2 separate regions of the Homo sapiens genome follow, and region 2 is linked to region 1. The links come from fine-mapping of genetic effects on gene expression. Tissue or cell type: spleen. Region 1 holds a variant in brackets; the other region holds the start of a gene. All regions are shown on one strand. Distances are from middle to middle.

Region 1 (8,262 bases):
GAAATTTCAGTGATCAGTTGATCTTATATCAATGGTGCTGCTAAGGTAGATAATATGATCTTTATTTAATATTTGAGAAACTCAAAGCTTGAAGAAATTAAGTGATTTTATCTAGTGTCAAACCTTTGTTATATCTTCTGTATGTTCAAAGAACATAGGGAATTTTTATATTACCTTGATCTGAAAAATAGTGTTCAGAGAAGGACACTAATAAATAGTTACCTTTATAATTACATAGAAAAATGAACAATTAGAGGATACTATATCCAGTTAAGCTCAACTTGAAAATTCATATGTAGCATTCTTACTTAAAAATAAGTTAGTAGTGGTGTATTTCAAGTGATCACTAATGAAAGCAGTATTAATTTGTTATTATGTTTGGCTTCATTTTGTTATTTCTTTTTAAGTTTTTAGAAACTTATTTAACATGGCTTTCCTTGGGAAATACCAATATATGGTCAGCATGAATATATATTCTTTTATAAAATATGCTTCCAGAATCTCTTAATTGGTTTTCTCAGTGTATGAGTGGTAGTGGAAAGAACCCTGTACTATTTAATAGGGAGTAAACCAAGCTATTGCAAATTTAGATCTTTTATTATTTTTTATTTGTGGCTGCCAATTTTGGCTGATAAGATGGCTTTTCTATGTATAGATTAGAACAGGAGTTTGTAATAAGGTGTTTTCCACAACTACTCAACTTTGCTGTCATAGTGGGAAAGCAGCTATAGGCAATACATAAACAAGTGGACATAACTGTGCTCCAATAATATTTTATTTATTAATACAAAGACAAGCAGCAGCCATATTTGGCCTACAGGTTGTAGTTTGCTAACTCCTGCATTAGAATGTCAAGTGAAATAAAAGCTCCTCACTATAATATTTTTTAAATTATTTGCCATGTTTTGTTTACTTAAATCCTATTCTAACTTAATGCTTTAATTTGTACATTTTTCTTTTTAAATTTCACCTTTTTGATTGCTACCGTGCTTTTATATCTTCAGCTTCTTTTTAGGGTCTCTAATATCCTCATACATCTTTCCAACCTTATCAAGACTCCTCCAAATTTAATTATATATTTACTGACAATCAGGAGTGAGTGAGGTAAGGCAATGGAGGTTCTAGATATAAAGAAAAGATAGACTCTTATGGATTTGGGTGGTCATGGAAGACTCATTAAAGGAGGCAGGACTGGAACTGATTCATCAAAGCTTCGAGGGAAATTTAATATTAGAAAAAAGAGAAGATTATTTCAATAAATTGTCGACAAGGGGAAACTCACATATTTCCTCCTTCCCTCATTTCATCCCCAAAATATGAATTCCACCAGGGACTGGTTCTTTCCCAGATCATTTCCTGGAACAGAATGCACAGAATGCTAATGATGTGACTTAGTTCTCTCTTTGGATTTTACCTCGTTGAATTCTCTTTTCCTTCCTTGTGGCTAGGACTGACCAGCCTTGGAAAGGCCTGAAGCCTGTGGCCTATACCAGTGTTGCTCTAGGCACTCTAGCAAATGGGCTTCTCTCTGGCTGGTTGGCTTGTTTTTCCTTAGTGTCCCTATATGAGATAGGAAAAAACAGGTTTTCCTACCCTTACACTGGATAGAACACATAACACCTCACCTCTGGTCACCAAAATGTGTGTGGATTTTCTCTCCCAACAACCAGTTCTCTAGTGGACACCAAATGAGTATACTATAATTCAGTTCATTTCTGACACTATCTGCCTGAAGATAGCATCAGATTCCACAGGTTAAAGGCTCAATCCCACAAGACTGCCCTCATTCAGATGCCAACTGCAAGTTCTTCTGGCAAAAAAGTAAGTAGAGGGTTCACACTACCCTCCCTTGGGTTGGATTAATTTGCTAGAATGGCTCTCAGAACTCAGAAAAACATGTTTACCCCCATTTATAGGGTACAGAAGAAGTTAGTTAGAGGGAAGAGATGCATAGGGCAGGGTCTGTGGGAAGGAATGTGGAGTTTCTTTGCATTTTCCAGGCATGCCACCCTCCCAGCACCTCCACGTGTTCAGAAATCTGGAAACTTGACTTTTGTGTTTTTATGAAGGCTCCGCTGTGTAGGCATGGTTGATTAAATCATTGGTTGTTGGTGATCAACTCAACTCTCCGACCTTGTCTCCTCCCTAGAGGACCCTGTATGGGGCTGGAAGTTCCAACTGTATAGTCACATGATGGGTTCCTCTGGCAGCCAGCCCCAATCCTGAGGCCTTCCCAAGAGCCCACTAGGAGTCATGTCATTAGAACAAAAGATGCTCCTATCCCGCAAGAGATTCCAAGGGATTTAGGAGCTCTGCTGTTAAAGAACAGAACTGGAGTCTGCTCAACTGGCACAGTGAAAACACACATCAAGGTTTTTGCAGTGACAGAAAGTTGCCTATTGCAGAGTGCTAAGCAGGGGGGGACCAGCCAGCTAAATGCTCAAATCTGGCCTCCCTGATGGCTTGCAGGCAAGGATTTTTAGGCTTGCAGGCAAGGATTTTTAAAGGCAGGGGTAAATTTCAAGAAAGCAGAAGCTACAGGCAAAATCATAAATCAATACAAGGAGGTTACACATTGGCTTAAGCTTAAAAGGGCAGGACATTTGAAGTGGGGGGCACTCACAGATGGTAGGTAGATTCAGAACTCTTCGGATTTGCAGTTGATTAAGGAAGGGAAGCTTTGTTTAAAACATTTAAGTTCAGTAGAAAAATGCTGACTTGCTAGAGGGAATGACTTTCTCTAAGTTCCTCAGGAAGAAACTTACTAATAAAACAAAGGGTAATAGCTAAAATTTAGTCTTCATTTCCCCCTTATCTGGAGTCTGTATGCCAGCAGATCCATTCAGTGGGGTTTCAAGCCTCTAAAAGACAACTCAAGGATGTATGTTAGGATGTTATCTTTAGTTTCTGTAGGAAAAGCAAACATCTCTGGAGCTTTAACTTCCTTGGCTATTGTTCTGCTACCTTTTCGTTTAACAAGTTACTGAATTACCTCCGGGGCTAGCTAGATGCCTGGAATGTTTCTTAAAGGAACTTTGGGGTTTTCCTTTATTTCCATGTTTGGGGGTTTGCAGGTCCCTAAAAGGAGAGGTGGGGTCCCTGCTATATTTCACTGTGTCCAATGATCCTATCGCACAGGAAATTACAAAAGTCTTAGGAGCTCTATGTCAGGAACTGGGGGAAGAGACCAAATATATATTTCTTATGTAAACCAAAAAGTATGTGAGACAGGTCTCAGTCAATTTAGAGGTTTATTTTGCCAAACTTAAAGACCATGGTCTGTGACACAGCCTCAGGGAATCTTGAGAACATATGCGCAAGGTGGTTTGGTTACAACTTGGTTTATACATTGTAGGGAGACAGAAGTTACAGGCAAAGACATAAATCAGTATGTGTAATGTTCAGCCTGGAAAGTGGGACATCTCTAGGTGGGCGTGAGGGAGGTTTTAGGTCATAGGTGGATTCAGAGATTTCCTGATTGGCAATTGGTTGAAAGAGGTAAGCCCTGACTAAAGAGTTGAATTCAGCATAAAGAAATGCTTGAGTTTAGTTAGATAAGGGGGTTGTGGACGCCAAGGTTCTTGTCATGTAGATGAGGCCTCCAGGTAGCAGGCTTCAGAGAGAATAGATGGTAAATATCTCTTATCAGACCTTAAAAGGTGTCATGCTCTCTGGAGAAGACCGAGTATGGGAAGGAGATTCTCTACAGAATGCAAATTTACTTTACAGGAGGCAGCTTTACAGGGGCATTTCAGAATATGGAATGTCAAACAAAAAAATTTTAGGGTAAAATACTTTGATTTTCTTCAGGGCTTGCAATAAAATACCAAACTCCAACCTGACTCTTGGTATAGTATCACATGATGTTGTTTGGAATTTGGTATTTTATTGCTATGAAGAGTCTGTTTTGTCAGTCTTATGATCTCTGTTTTAATGTTAACGTCGGTCAGTTGTGTCTAAATCCCGAAGTATAGAGTGCAGAAAAGCCCAGCATGTCCAATCCATAATGAGGCATGTCTGACCCCTCCCTTTCAGTCATGGCCTAAACTATTTTTTCAGGTTTCTTTGGGGTCCACTTGGCTAAGAGGAGGGTCCGTTCAATCGGTTGGGGGCTTAGAATTATATTTTTGGTACACTTGTTATATCACAGATCCTTTCAGTCTTTTATGGCCATTTGACTTGGTGGGC[G/A]GATATGACCCAAGGGGATGGGAATAGGAAGTCAGTCAGCTTTCTTGGCTTATAAGCTACCTTTATGAGTAAATGTGTAAATGAAGGAGTCCTGCTTGGGATCTGTGTTACCTTATTGGGAACATAATTTGGAATTTGAAATTAGGGTTTTTTAAAAACAGAATGTGAATAAGTACTTCTGTTCACATTTTTTCCTGTAGACTTTGCAAAAAGGGATAGCATGGCAAGACAGATGGGTTCCTGCCATCTCTCAATCTTTTTACCTTTGGTATGATGGCAGACTAAGCGAGTATATGGACAGGGCCACTGGATCTGGAAGACAAAGCCCTATGTGGAGAAAGTGATGCCCCTGTGTTGAGGCAGCCTTCTTGTTTCTTTTGCAAGCACAACTGCTGTCCCAGACAGTGACAGCCTATCTTTAGCGAGTGGGATCTGGAGTTACTGTGGTATTTGGAGAGCCAGCCAGTCTGCCACAGTTACCTCAGGCTGCATGAATAATTTCTCTACAAAAAATGGCAGCAGTTTTCCATCATAACTGCAGTTTCTGGTATCTGATGCTGGAATTCATTTCTAAAGCCAGAGTAATATCACATTAAAATGAGCAAATCTCCAGACACTGATTTTTAGCTGCTGGATTTTTTGATTGTACAGTGTTTACTTCTTTTCGCTTCCGGGGGAAGAAAGTGGGCTCATCTCAAAGCCTTAAATAACAGTCATGAAAATTTCACCGTGTGACCACAGTGGCATGATGGATGGCATCCGAGGAACAGAGGGAAGGAAGGAGAGTGTTACTGTGCAGGGAATTTGTTGTCATTTGAAATTAAGGTTGGGACATCTCAGTGAAATCATTAAAACCTAGGAACTAAAATGAAAATAAAGACCTGTACTCAAAACTCTGGCTTAAGGAATTGGGTTGCTTGGAGGCAGAGAGAAAATTAGCCAAAGAGTAAAACTACAGCATTTGAAATATGAAGAGAAAAAGTACAAATTGGATTTTATAAAGAGATCACTAGAAACTTGAAGAGAGAAGAGGATCAGCTTTAGAAGCAAACTATAGGGGAATTGGGAAAGGAAAGTTTAAAATTTGAAATATTTAAACAGGCCATTACAAAGATAAAAGGCTTTTGGGAAGACTTAGGGCCTAGGGCTTCTCTTCATGTGAAGCCTCTCGTATCTCTAGGACACCAATATAGGGCAGAGTCTTACTATGAGACTTTTTCTCCTGAACACCCCTTCACAGTCCCCGGTAAGCTAGATTGGGACATATGAGAACTCCTTTCTCTTAGGCCAATTGCCTCCTTTGTCCATTTCCTCTTTGCTGTTTCATTTGTAGTAAAAAATAGTCTTAAATTTGAATGTTTTAAAATTATAACTAAAAAGTCTTTAAATACAAATCTTAAGACTGTGCTAAGATAGAAATTTGCTAAGCAAATCAATCTATGAGTAAAAAAACAATTGCATCAAGATTCCATATTTAACATTAGCTGTAGCCAATATTATGTGCATAGAAAAATATCAATCCAAATGAAAGAATTGACTTCAAGTTAGAAAATAATATGGATTCACAATCCTTCTCCCTTCTTATTCAAAACCATGCAGGTAATATATGCTTTAAACACTAAAAATGATGAGCATGAATCTGCAATTCAAGCCCTCAAAGATGCTCATGAAGAAGAAATTCAACAAATTCTTGCTGAAACAAGAGAAAAAATATTGCAGTATAAAAGCAAAGTAACAGAGGAGCTAGACCTTAGAAGAAAGATTCAAGTTTTAGAATCATCATTAGAAGATCACATAAAAATGAAGCAGCAGGCTTTGACAGAATTTGAAGCTTATAAGCACAGAGTTGAGGACATGCAACTTTGTGCAGAAGCCCAGCATGTCCAACGCATAGTGACCATGTCTAGAGAAGTCGAAGAGATTAGAAGGAAATTTGAAGAAAAATTACGGAGCTTTGGACAACTTCAAGTACAGTTTGAAAAAGACAAACGATTGGCATTGGAAGACTTGCAAGCTGCTCACAGACGGGAGATACAAGAGCTATTGAAGTCACAGCAGGATCACAGTGCCTCAGTAAATAAAGGCCAGGAAAAGGCAGAGGAACTACACAGAATGGAGGTGGAGTCCCTAAACAAAATGCTTGAGGAGCTAAGACTTGAACGGAAGAAACTAATTGAGGATTATGAAGGCAAGTTGAATAAAGCTCAGTCCTTTTATGAACGTGAGCTTGATACTTTGAAAAGGTCACAGCTTTTTACAGCAGAAAGCCTACAGGCCAGCAAAGAAAAGGAAGCTGATCTTAGAAAAGAATTTCAGGGACAAGAAGCAATTTTACGAAAAACTATAGGAAAATTAAAGACAGAGTTACAGATGGTACAGGATGAAGCTGGAAGTCTTCTTGACAAATGCCAAAAGCTTCAGACGGCACTTGCCATAGCAGAGAACAATGTTCAGGTAAGTAAAGAATATTATATTCAACACATGGATTTTTTTTCTTTTAAAAATATTTGTTTTGTAGGCTGGAGAGCAGTCTGGCCCACTTAGAATCAGTGGCTTCACACCACTTAGACTTTTTTTTTTTTTTTTTTTTAACTTTTCCTGCTTTTCCTTTGTGAGAAAAATCAATGACAGGATAATTTGTATTACCCTGTAGTTGTTATTTCAGACTTTCAGATATTAGGGGCCCAAAAAGACAAGCTTAAAACCTTGTCTAATTATTGGCTAGGCACAGTGGTACACACCTGTAATCCCAGCACTTTGGGGGGCCCAGGCAGGAGGATCGCTTCAGGCCAGGTGTTAGAAACCAGCCTGGGTGAGTGAGCTTAGCGAGGTAATACGCTGTTCCTGGGGGGGGGGGCGGACAATATTGCTAATTATTTACAAAAGGATTTTAATATTGGGCTTAAAGTTTAAATACATTTTTTTCTTTTCCTTTCACTAATAATGGTTTGCCTGCTAGCTGATATTTAGAATTTGATCAAGAAATTGCTTGCTTTCTAAACCTGAATTTAATAGGGGTATTGCACAAGTCTGGGGGAAAAAAATGCCGGAAGTCCACAAGTTTTGTTTTGTTGGCTTAGAAAATTTCATAGCCATGTTTTTAATATCTGTGCAACATTAGAATGGATTAGAAAGTGTGGAATAGCCTTTCCTGATTGGGTCATGTTTATGAAAACATCAAGTTATAAATCACTAATACTTACAGATTTAAAAATTGGTATATAGTTTAGTATGACTTCTGAATAAGAGAAAGCTGACCCTTATAATTTAAATGAATTATTTAGCTTAGTATTATTCCTGCATTTTAACAATGGCTATTTAATCTTTCTTAGGTTCTTCAAAAACAGCTTGATGATGCCAAGGAGGGAGAAATGGCCCTATTAAGCAAGCACAAAGAAGTGGAAAGTGAGCTAGCAGCTGCCAGAGAACGTTTACAACAGCAAGCTTCAGATCTTGTCCTCAAAGCTAGTATGTGTGACCACAGTTTTTGATGTAATGCTTAGCTAAAATCAACACTTTATTTATTTATTTTTTTGGAGACAGAGTCTTGCTCTGTCGCCCAGACGGGAGTGCAGTGGCTCAATCTCGGCTCATTGCAACCTCTGCCTCCTGGGTTCAAGCAATTCTCCTGCCTCAGCTTCCTGAGTAGCTGGGACTACAGGTGCCCGCCACCATGCTTGGCTAATTTTTTTGTATTTTTAGTAGAGATGGAGTTTCACCGTGTTGCCCAGGCTGGTCTCGAACTCCTGAGCTCAGGCAGTCTCCCTGCCTCAGCCTCCCAAAGTGCTGGGATTACAGGCATGAGCCACCACGCTCGGCCCCAACACTTAAATGTTAATTTAAGGTAGCATTTATTTTTTCTTCTAACATTTTAAAACTATTTAGACTGTAAATAAGTTAAAGGACTCAATATGTTACTAATTACTTATAAGATACACAAATATTTTTTATTTTTAGGAATATATTTTTATAGAAAACTTGAGAGTTTTCCTTTGTGAGGAAAAATACCAATAGCAGGTAAAATACCAATAAAGTAGTCACTAAAAGAAAAACGGGCTGGGCATGGTGGCTTAC
Region 2 (8,262 bases), 130 kb after region 1:
AAGCAGCAGGAGCCACTTTTGCAGGGAGGTGATGTGGGGTAGGGGAGCAATCAGGAGTTCATTTTAGACATATTTGAGATGTCTGCTTCTAAGCAGAGATACTGAATAGGCAGGATAAAAATTTGGAACCTGTCAATGATATGTAAAGCCATAAAAATACATGGGCTTGCTCTAGGGAGTGAGATTTGAGCCCTCCAAAGATAAGAGGACAAATTAAGTTACAAAACAAGTGGCAAATGAGGTAGGTGACCCAAAAGCCAAGTGAAGAAACTGTTTTAAGAAAGTGATGTGAAAGGTACTAAACTAGCCAAGTGAGGATAAGACTAAGAATTATCACATAGAGTGGCTGGGCGCAGTGGCTCACGCCTGTAATCCCAGCATTGTGGGAGGCTAAGGTGGCTGGATGGCTTGAGGTCAGGAGTTCGAGACCAGCCTGGCAAACATGGTGAAACCCCATCTCTACTAAAAGTACAAAAATTAGGGGTGGCACATGCCTGTGGTCCCAGCTACTCGGGAGGCTGAGGCACAAGAATCGCCTGAACCCTGGAGGCGGAGGTTGCAGTGAGCCGAGATCGCGCCACTGCACTCCAGCCTGGGCAATGGAACGAGATTGTCTCCAAAAAAAAAAAAAAAAAATTATTACATAAAGGTTTTCATGAATTTTAATTTCATATATAATTGTATCACTACATATAATGCCCTTGATCCTAAGTGGTATAAATTCGCATTTGTGGACTGGCATAGGAACATAGCCATAATTTATAAACCTATTTTAGAAAATACCTACTATATACTGGGCATTAGTTCTACTTCATACCTATTGTTTAAACCTCAACAGCTTCATCATGTAGATCAAATTATCCCCATTATGCAAATAACTTGAGACTCTGAGAGGTTAAGTAATCTACACAAATTCATAATTTGTACATCAAAGAATCAGAATCCAAGCTATGCCTCTGTAACTACAAACCCCGGGCTTCTTCTGAAAACCTAACTGGGAAGATAAATTCTTTCTAGCTCTGAAATTAGCAGTGGAATAAGGGAATTTATTTGCAGGGGAAGTGAGAGCAGAGGAGATGGAGAGAGAATCTAGCCTTAACAAGAACAGGCTGCAACTCAGGGAACACTTGTACATTGATTTTTATGTTTATGGGATGCTTGCTACAGTTGCTGAGTTTTACATGCTCAATACCCTTTTATACATTGGCATCAGTTTTTTTGTTGTTTTTTTTTTTAACCCAGCTTTCATTTAATTCCTCTGCCCCCTGTATTTGAGGGAGGAAGGGTAAGGTCAGATGTTTTACATAAGTTCTCAGGTGAAGAAATTTGTTCATTTATTTTAAAGTTAACTTTTATTTAATCACAGTAATCATGATTAAATGATTTACCCAGCCTGAAAGTATTTACATTTGTGGTGAAAGAGTGAGTGAATGAGGGAAGTCATCAAGAGAATTTTTAGCTAATTACACTACTTGGGAAGACCTGTGGTCTAGTGGAAAGTATGTAGGCTTTGGAATTAGAACAAGCTGAAGTTGGAAAGTATGAAGCACCATGCTCAATTCTGGTATATTATAAGTATTCAATTGACAGTAGCTGTAATTAAGATATATATATATATAAATTTAAGAATGGCAGGATGGTCAATCAAAACTTGTACAGTCTTGGTGACCATCAAGCACATCCAGCCAGGGTCTCAGGCTGTCTTAACCCTTGATATAAGCCCTATATTAGAAAGAACCAAATTATCTTAAGACCAAATATTCCTCAAGGCTTTTTCTGAAGCAAAGCTACAGGGCAGCTCTTAAAGGAAAGTGAACGTTTGGGGCTACTGATGAAAGTATGAAAAACGGTGGCCAAACTCTGCTTTGAGACTTGAGGCAAAATAACTTATTAAGAAAATTCTTTTCAAAATATTCTATAGTTTGGGCTGGGTGCAGTGGGCTCACTATAATCACAACACTATGGGAGGCAGGGGTGGGAGGACTGCTTGAGCCCAGGGGTTCGAGACCAGCTTGGGCAACATGGCAAAACTCCGTCTCTACAAAAAATTAAAAAATTAGCCCAATGTGGTGGCACATCGACTATGGTCCCAGCTATTCAGGAGGCTAAGGTGGGAGGATTGCTTAAGCCCAGGTTGAGGCTGCAGGGAGCAGCTGTGTTTGCACCACTGTACTCCATCCAGCCTGAGTGCCAGAGCAACACTGTCTCATTTAAAAAAAAAAAAATTCTATAGTTTAATTTTAAGAACAGAATTTTTAAAAGAACTGTAATATAAAAGTATGGAACCTATTAGAAGCCTTTGCTAAGTAAAAATTTCCTTAATCCACATAGCCTCTAGGTGGAGTATACAGGCATGGCACCTTTTTGAAAGATTCCTTTGCAGCTTCAGTATGACTCAGCTTAAAATATTTTTTAAAATACTAAATAAATGCTCAGTAATGGTGCCTAGGAAGTGAAATATACCATTGGAAATAAGTATGTTTTTGACACCAGTACTGTAAATCCCTGATGTGATTCAGCTGGGTTCTGAATGGATCCCAGTTAAAAATGGAACGTTTTGGCTTTATGAATGGCTGGTTTCATCTATGCAATGTAAAAGCCCTGTAACGACATCCTGAGTCATCTATCTTCTTTGTTCAGAGCTGACTCCTAAAATGGAAGGCAACACTTGAGAAATACCTGTAATTTGAAGAACTTCTGGTGGTATATCTGAAAAACAGTGTGGTATAAGTTGGAATGGACCGATCAATGGTTTTTCTTTTGTCTATTTTTATATGCAGTTGGCAATAAAAAAAAAATTACTGTTGGGTGTGAAAAATGGGCCTGGTAGCTGCAATGCTTATATTAATAGTAGTATCATAGGAGAGTAATCAAATGACTTCAGAGTAATAAGAAAAATACCCCTTAGTGTTATCAATGGCCTATTTGAAATTATTTTAATAAATGAATCATCTTTCAAAATTTGCCCTATATATGTATGTGCATTTATGCTCTATATAGGTTTAAAAAAAAAAAAAAAACGGGGGCACATGTTAAAGTAATAATTGTGATTACCGAAAGGAGATAGGGCAAGGCACTGAGTACAGAGAACTGTTAACTTTATATATGCCTGTACAACTTTCTAAAAGTTTATTACAATGAATATATATTGTTTTATAATTAAAATTAACCTTACATATGATATATACATTTTAGAGATTAAAAACTAGTTTTTAAAATGAAAAGTTTTACATGCCACGATTACCTAAATCATCTTCAATGCATTTTTTACATATACTTCTAGTTCAAAGTATGTCCCTCATCGATGAAGTTAAACTATTTCCCCTTCAAAACTGGCAAATGAAGCACTGAATTACTTTAGTAAAAGATAATTAAAGCAAAGATAATTGTCGTTTTAGCTTTCTAAATATTTATTACTAAAGATATTAAAAATACGTATTTTTAAGACCTTAAAATATATGTAGAAAAAATACCAAGAATTCTTGGACTGACATGAGGAGTTGACCTTAATTTCCTAGCCTACGTTTGTGTTTTATGTTTAGGGTGTGTTCTGTATTTGGATGTGGAGTTATTTTAGATTTCAACACGGTCTTGAAGAAAGTCTTCCTTCAGACTATTTATAAGGCAGAGATTAAGTCCTGGAAATTATTTAAGTATCTTATTTCTGCTTTTAGGTTAAATGTAACTTCCTACCTCAGCTCTATTTCTCTTCCTGAAATTAGCTTTTCGTCATTAGGGGAAAGGAGTCCACGTTGGTTGGGGAGCCTGCGCGCCAGCATCCCGGCGCATCCCGGGCGCCGGCCGAGGAGGACCGGCCGAACAGGACCCACGGCCCCCGGGGAGCGCCGGCGCCCAGCCCGCGGCGCGGAGGGGCCGAGCCTGCGCCCGCCTCCCCCGCTGGTTGGTCGAGGAAGCCAGAAATCAGCGCGAGGACAGCCTCGCTCTCCTCCCCGAAGCGGCCAGGCATGGCCAGCCCGGAGAGTGCGGCGACTCCACCGTGAGCTCTCGAGAGTGCCTGCCTGCCTTTCGCCGGGGGCAGGCGGGCGGCGGGGCAAGAGGAGGCGCCGTGCGCCGGGGTCGCTGGCCCAATTCTCGACTCGGGGTAAGATGGCTCCGCTCCGAACTCGCCGGCGCGACCACACGCACAGCCTCTCCCTTCCCAGCCTCCGTGCTCGGGCCCGGAGGGTCGCGGAGGCTGTTGGCGGCGCGGAGCCAGCCCGGCGCGACCTCAGGCGGCGCAGCGGGAGCGAGTGCGGGTCTCCGAGCTGCCCGCCCGCAGACAAAGCTGACAACATGGCTACCTCCGCTCCTCCGCTCAAACAAGTTCCTCGCAAGTTGAGCCCGGCAGGCGCCTGGGCTGCGGCGGAAAGCCGCGCGCGCCTCGGCGGCCGTCGTCCATCAACTTCAAGTTTCCCTCCGCAGAGCAGCCCGCGGCCGCCAGGCGCCGAACACAGCCGCCCAGCGCGAGGCCCGGCCCGGGAAACTTTCAACGTCTGCAGCCCGCAACTGACAGCCCGGGCGCACGGGCGCCGCACTCACCTTCAGACAGGTCCTCGATGCACTCGAAGGTGATCTCGAACTGGAACGGGTTGTAGAAAGGAGAAGGGTTATCCAGCACCACTACATTGTTCACCTGAACCTTTGCCATATTTTGAAAAAAACACAAACAATGGGAACTGGGGCTGGTTGCGGCACAATAAAGTCCAGCGCGCGGCCGCTCGGGAGAGCGCAGACCCCCGCTCCAGCGCCGGCCAGACGTCGTGCAGCGGCGACTTGAGAAACTTTTTTCCTCTTTTTATTTACACGGGAGCACTCCACAGTGTTTTGCAGCTTTCCTATTTCACTAAACTACAGCCCATTCTGCTCTGATAAGTAGCAGCGTTGCCCTCGATTGGCTGCACCCGAGTTCTGACCCTCCTCCTCCAGCGAGGGCCTCGGCAGCCAGCAAGATGGGCTCCCGCTCCCGGAATGGACTCGGAAACTTTAACTGCGGCTCCACCTGCTGGTGTGGATTAGGACAAAGGCGGAGAACAAAGTGAGTGGAATAAGGGCTGGGAGGCCCGCGCGGAGGCCGCCGGCGGCGGCGCGGAGAGGGGCGGAGGGGGCGTGGCCGCGGCGGGGAGGCGTGGCTGCGGCGGGAGGGCGCGATCCGGCCGACGCCCGCCCCTCCAGTTGGCTTCGTGTGGGTGTTTTGGCGTTTTTTTGTTTTTTTTTTTGTTTTTTTGGTTTTTTGATTTAACGCTCTTTTTACATCAGTGCAACAGCTTTGCCGGCCTTGCTGAATTTAGCAGATGAGAGTCGGTGTTTACACTGGGTTAGGTTCAGCTTTCTGCGTATCGGGTAGTATTTGGAGTAGAGAGAAAGATTGGCTGCAGGGGAAATAAATTGCATGTTATAGACCGATGTCAGCTCGAAAGGAGCAAAGCCATTTTGGAAATCTAGCTCTTGGCCAGTATCTACGTTTAGGCACGACAGCGCCGTTAAGCAACACAAAATGAAGGGCGAGGAATGATTTTCTACACACTGTGCTTGGAAAATTTAAATAGGTAACCTTTGGGCTTGCACCTGGGCGTCTTCTTCGGAGTCCAGATCTGGGAAGTCCTAGAATAAAAAAAAATCACAAGAGGTGTGATCAGTTATACTTCAGGTTACTGCCATTTGGAGAGCATAGCAGGAACATAAAAGGAGAAAATGGAAGTGTTAGGAGACCAACAGGGCAACAAACGTAATAGAGATGGGAAAAAGAACACAAAGACATAGCAAGACATTTGATCTTCAAAAAAATTTCTGACCTAAACCGTTAGTAAAGCAAATTCTGAGGAGCCCTTGCTTGCCTGTAACCAGTTGAGGTCTGAACTGAGGAAATGTTGATTCGTTTATGCTGCTTGGCTACCATTGCGGGGAAAGAGAAAGCTTTAACATATTTGTGAGCCTAAACCGTTTCTATTTAGTAAGTGGTATAAAGGTTTGTTTTATTATCTGCTAGCCATAAACCATCATTTTTTTCCTTAAATGTTGTGAATGAAACCACCAAACTTGGCCAAATTCAGAGAGAAAATTAATTCTTAAGTATGTGTTCTGGAAGAGTTTTCTCTTAGTATAGTGCCCAGAATTTTGATTTGTCATTCTTTGGTCATTGTTCATACTTAAGTAGGTGGCTTTTGATGAAACGTTTTCATCTGATGGTCTTTTGAAAGTTAATGTGAGACAGCTAATGTCAACCCCTCGTACATTTAGGAAAACCGGTTAGAGTGGGGAAGAGTTCCCTTTTTTTGTCAGTGGATTGAACAGTTAGATATAGGACCTACCAAAAAACACTTCTTCAAGCCAGTTGTTTGTGACATTAGAGTATTAAGAGTCAAACCATGGTGATAGACACAGATTTTTGTGGCTGATAAACAACATACTCTTCATTCTTATTAGTGCTGGTCCTAACACTAGCAGATAAAGTGGAAATTGCTGTATGCTGTAAGACACTCTGTATATGTAAGATAAAATGACCATTTGAAGATTAAAACTCCTGTGAGACTGGTGTATGCAGTTGTCTGATTATTACAGGTACTCTTAAGAGGAGAGTCTAGTCAGTCTCATGAAAACGACATTTTATGCTTGTTAAAATCACGTGCATTTTGCAGTCTGACCGTAAGTGTTACAATGAGACTAGTTGTAAAACTCACTTTTGGTGGATGTGCAGCATGAAGGACTGAGAAGATCTACCTGAATGCCACTAATTTGGCTTATTTTCTTTAAAATTTTTTGTTTAACACATCATATGCAACAGTATTTAAGAAGAAAAAACTCCCCAACATTTCACTGGAAGCTGCAAGAATTAGCTCCAGGCTTCTCCTGTCTTAACTCTTGTATTATTGCTTGTCAGAAATACTAAAGGGTCGTTGAGCACTTTGTTCAATAGTTTCCTCACCATTGATACTACCTTACTCCAGGAGAGACCGAAAGGATTCCTCAGATATGTCCTGGCATATTTCTAATTTAACTGGTATGCTGTAGGAAAAAAAGAATTGTGAAAGCCTCTCTCTGGTTTCAGAGGCAATCAGTAGGACTTGTTGCTGAACAACTTTGGTGACTCCCAAACATCTAATTGTACAACAGATGGGTCACTGTGAATGTCTTTATTAAGTACCCAAGGGGGTCCCACATAATGTTTGGAGGGCTGCATGGAATGTAATCCCCCAATCACTTCTCACTATGGGTTACTTGGGGGAAGGATGGCTGAGAGAGATTTTATCGGCTCTAAGATGAACAGAACAAAGCCTAAACTAGTGCTTAGGGCAGAAATACATGAAACTAGTTAGTTGTTGTTTTAGACTGAATTATGTCTCCCCCAAATTCGTATGTTGAAGCACTAATCCCTAGTACCTCAGAATGTGACTGTATTTGGAGATTAAGTTAAATGAGGTGATTGGGGTGGGCCCTAATCTAATCTAGCTGGCGTCCTCACAAGGGGAAATTTAGATTTACAGAGAAGCACAAGGGTCACACGCACACAGAGGAAACACAGCAAAAAGGTGGCCATTTGCAAGCCAAGCAAAGAGGCTTTAGAATAAACCAAACCTGCCAACACCTTGATCTTGGATTTCTAGCTTCCAGAACTGTGAGAAAGTAAATTTCTATTGTTTAAGCCACCCAGTGAGTGATATTTTGTTATGGCAGCTCTAACAACCTAATATAGCTATAAGATATTTTTCCCCTCAGAATTAAGCTTATTTGAGCATCTAATCTTACTGAATCCAAATATTGGTCAGTTCCCAAGCACTTCCTGTGGGTGAAATGATGTGGTCCTTTAGCCATGCCAGTAAGGGTGTGGCGTATGTGGAGTGGTGTGCTGTTGCCATTCTTCAGAGGAAGTATATACCACTGGGCATATAGCTTGAATTCTGAAGACACAAGATGCAGCTTACTTGCATGGATTCAAGACTCCTCTACAGAGAAGTGAAACTTGAAGTCAAATTGAGGTCATACACAAAACAAGATGAAAGAGCGAATTCAAATATACTAAAATTGAATTAAATCAAAATGTGCCAAATTAAAATACATTAGAACTAGGAATTAAATTGAGTGTCAGCCCGTGTCTACTGCAAAAGTTATCATAGGAATGGAAGTACTAACCTCTAGCTTTTGTTCAAATCTAGATTTCCACCTCGGGTAATCACTGTGTTGAATTGTCTTCTCATTTGTATTATTACCAACTTAAAAAAATTCCTCATGTAAGGCTTGTTTTAATATGGTCTTTAGTTAGTTTAA

The links. PIP is the estimated chance that this variant, and not a neighbour inherited with it, causes the effect.
Region 2: it holds the start of ASF1A, and the variant in region 1 is fine-mapped to the expression of ASF1A in spleen (GTEx, PIP 0.97).

What each region holds. Positions count from the first base shown.
Region 1 is chr6:119,022,339-119,030,600 of GRCh38, reverse strand. It overlaps FAM184A (family with sequence similarity 184 member A), which reads left to right. Exons shown (of 18, transcript NM_024581.6): 2 at 5,788-6,642; 3 at 7,521-7,656. The region is part of intron 1 of LOC124901389 (a long non-coding RNA gene); the gene reads right to left. Among named protein-coding and RNA genes, the nearest start is that of MIR548B, 43 kb to the left of the region's middle. The variant G/A (reference allele first, on the strand shown) is at 4,189.
Region 2 is chr6:118,890,800-118,899,061 of GRCh38, reverse strand. ASF1A (anti-silencing function 1A histone chaperone) reads right to left here and starts at 4,910. Exons shown (of 4, transcript NM_014034.3): 1 at 4,540-4,910. The coding sequence starts at 4,648. All of the region lies in intron 8 of MCM9 (minichromosome maintenance 9 homologous recombination repair factor), which reads left to right. RefSeq lists silencers at 3,716-4,245, 5,036-5,175 and an enhancer at 4,626-4,715.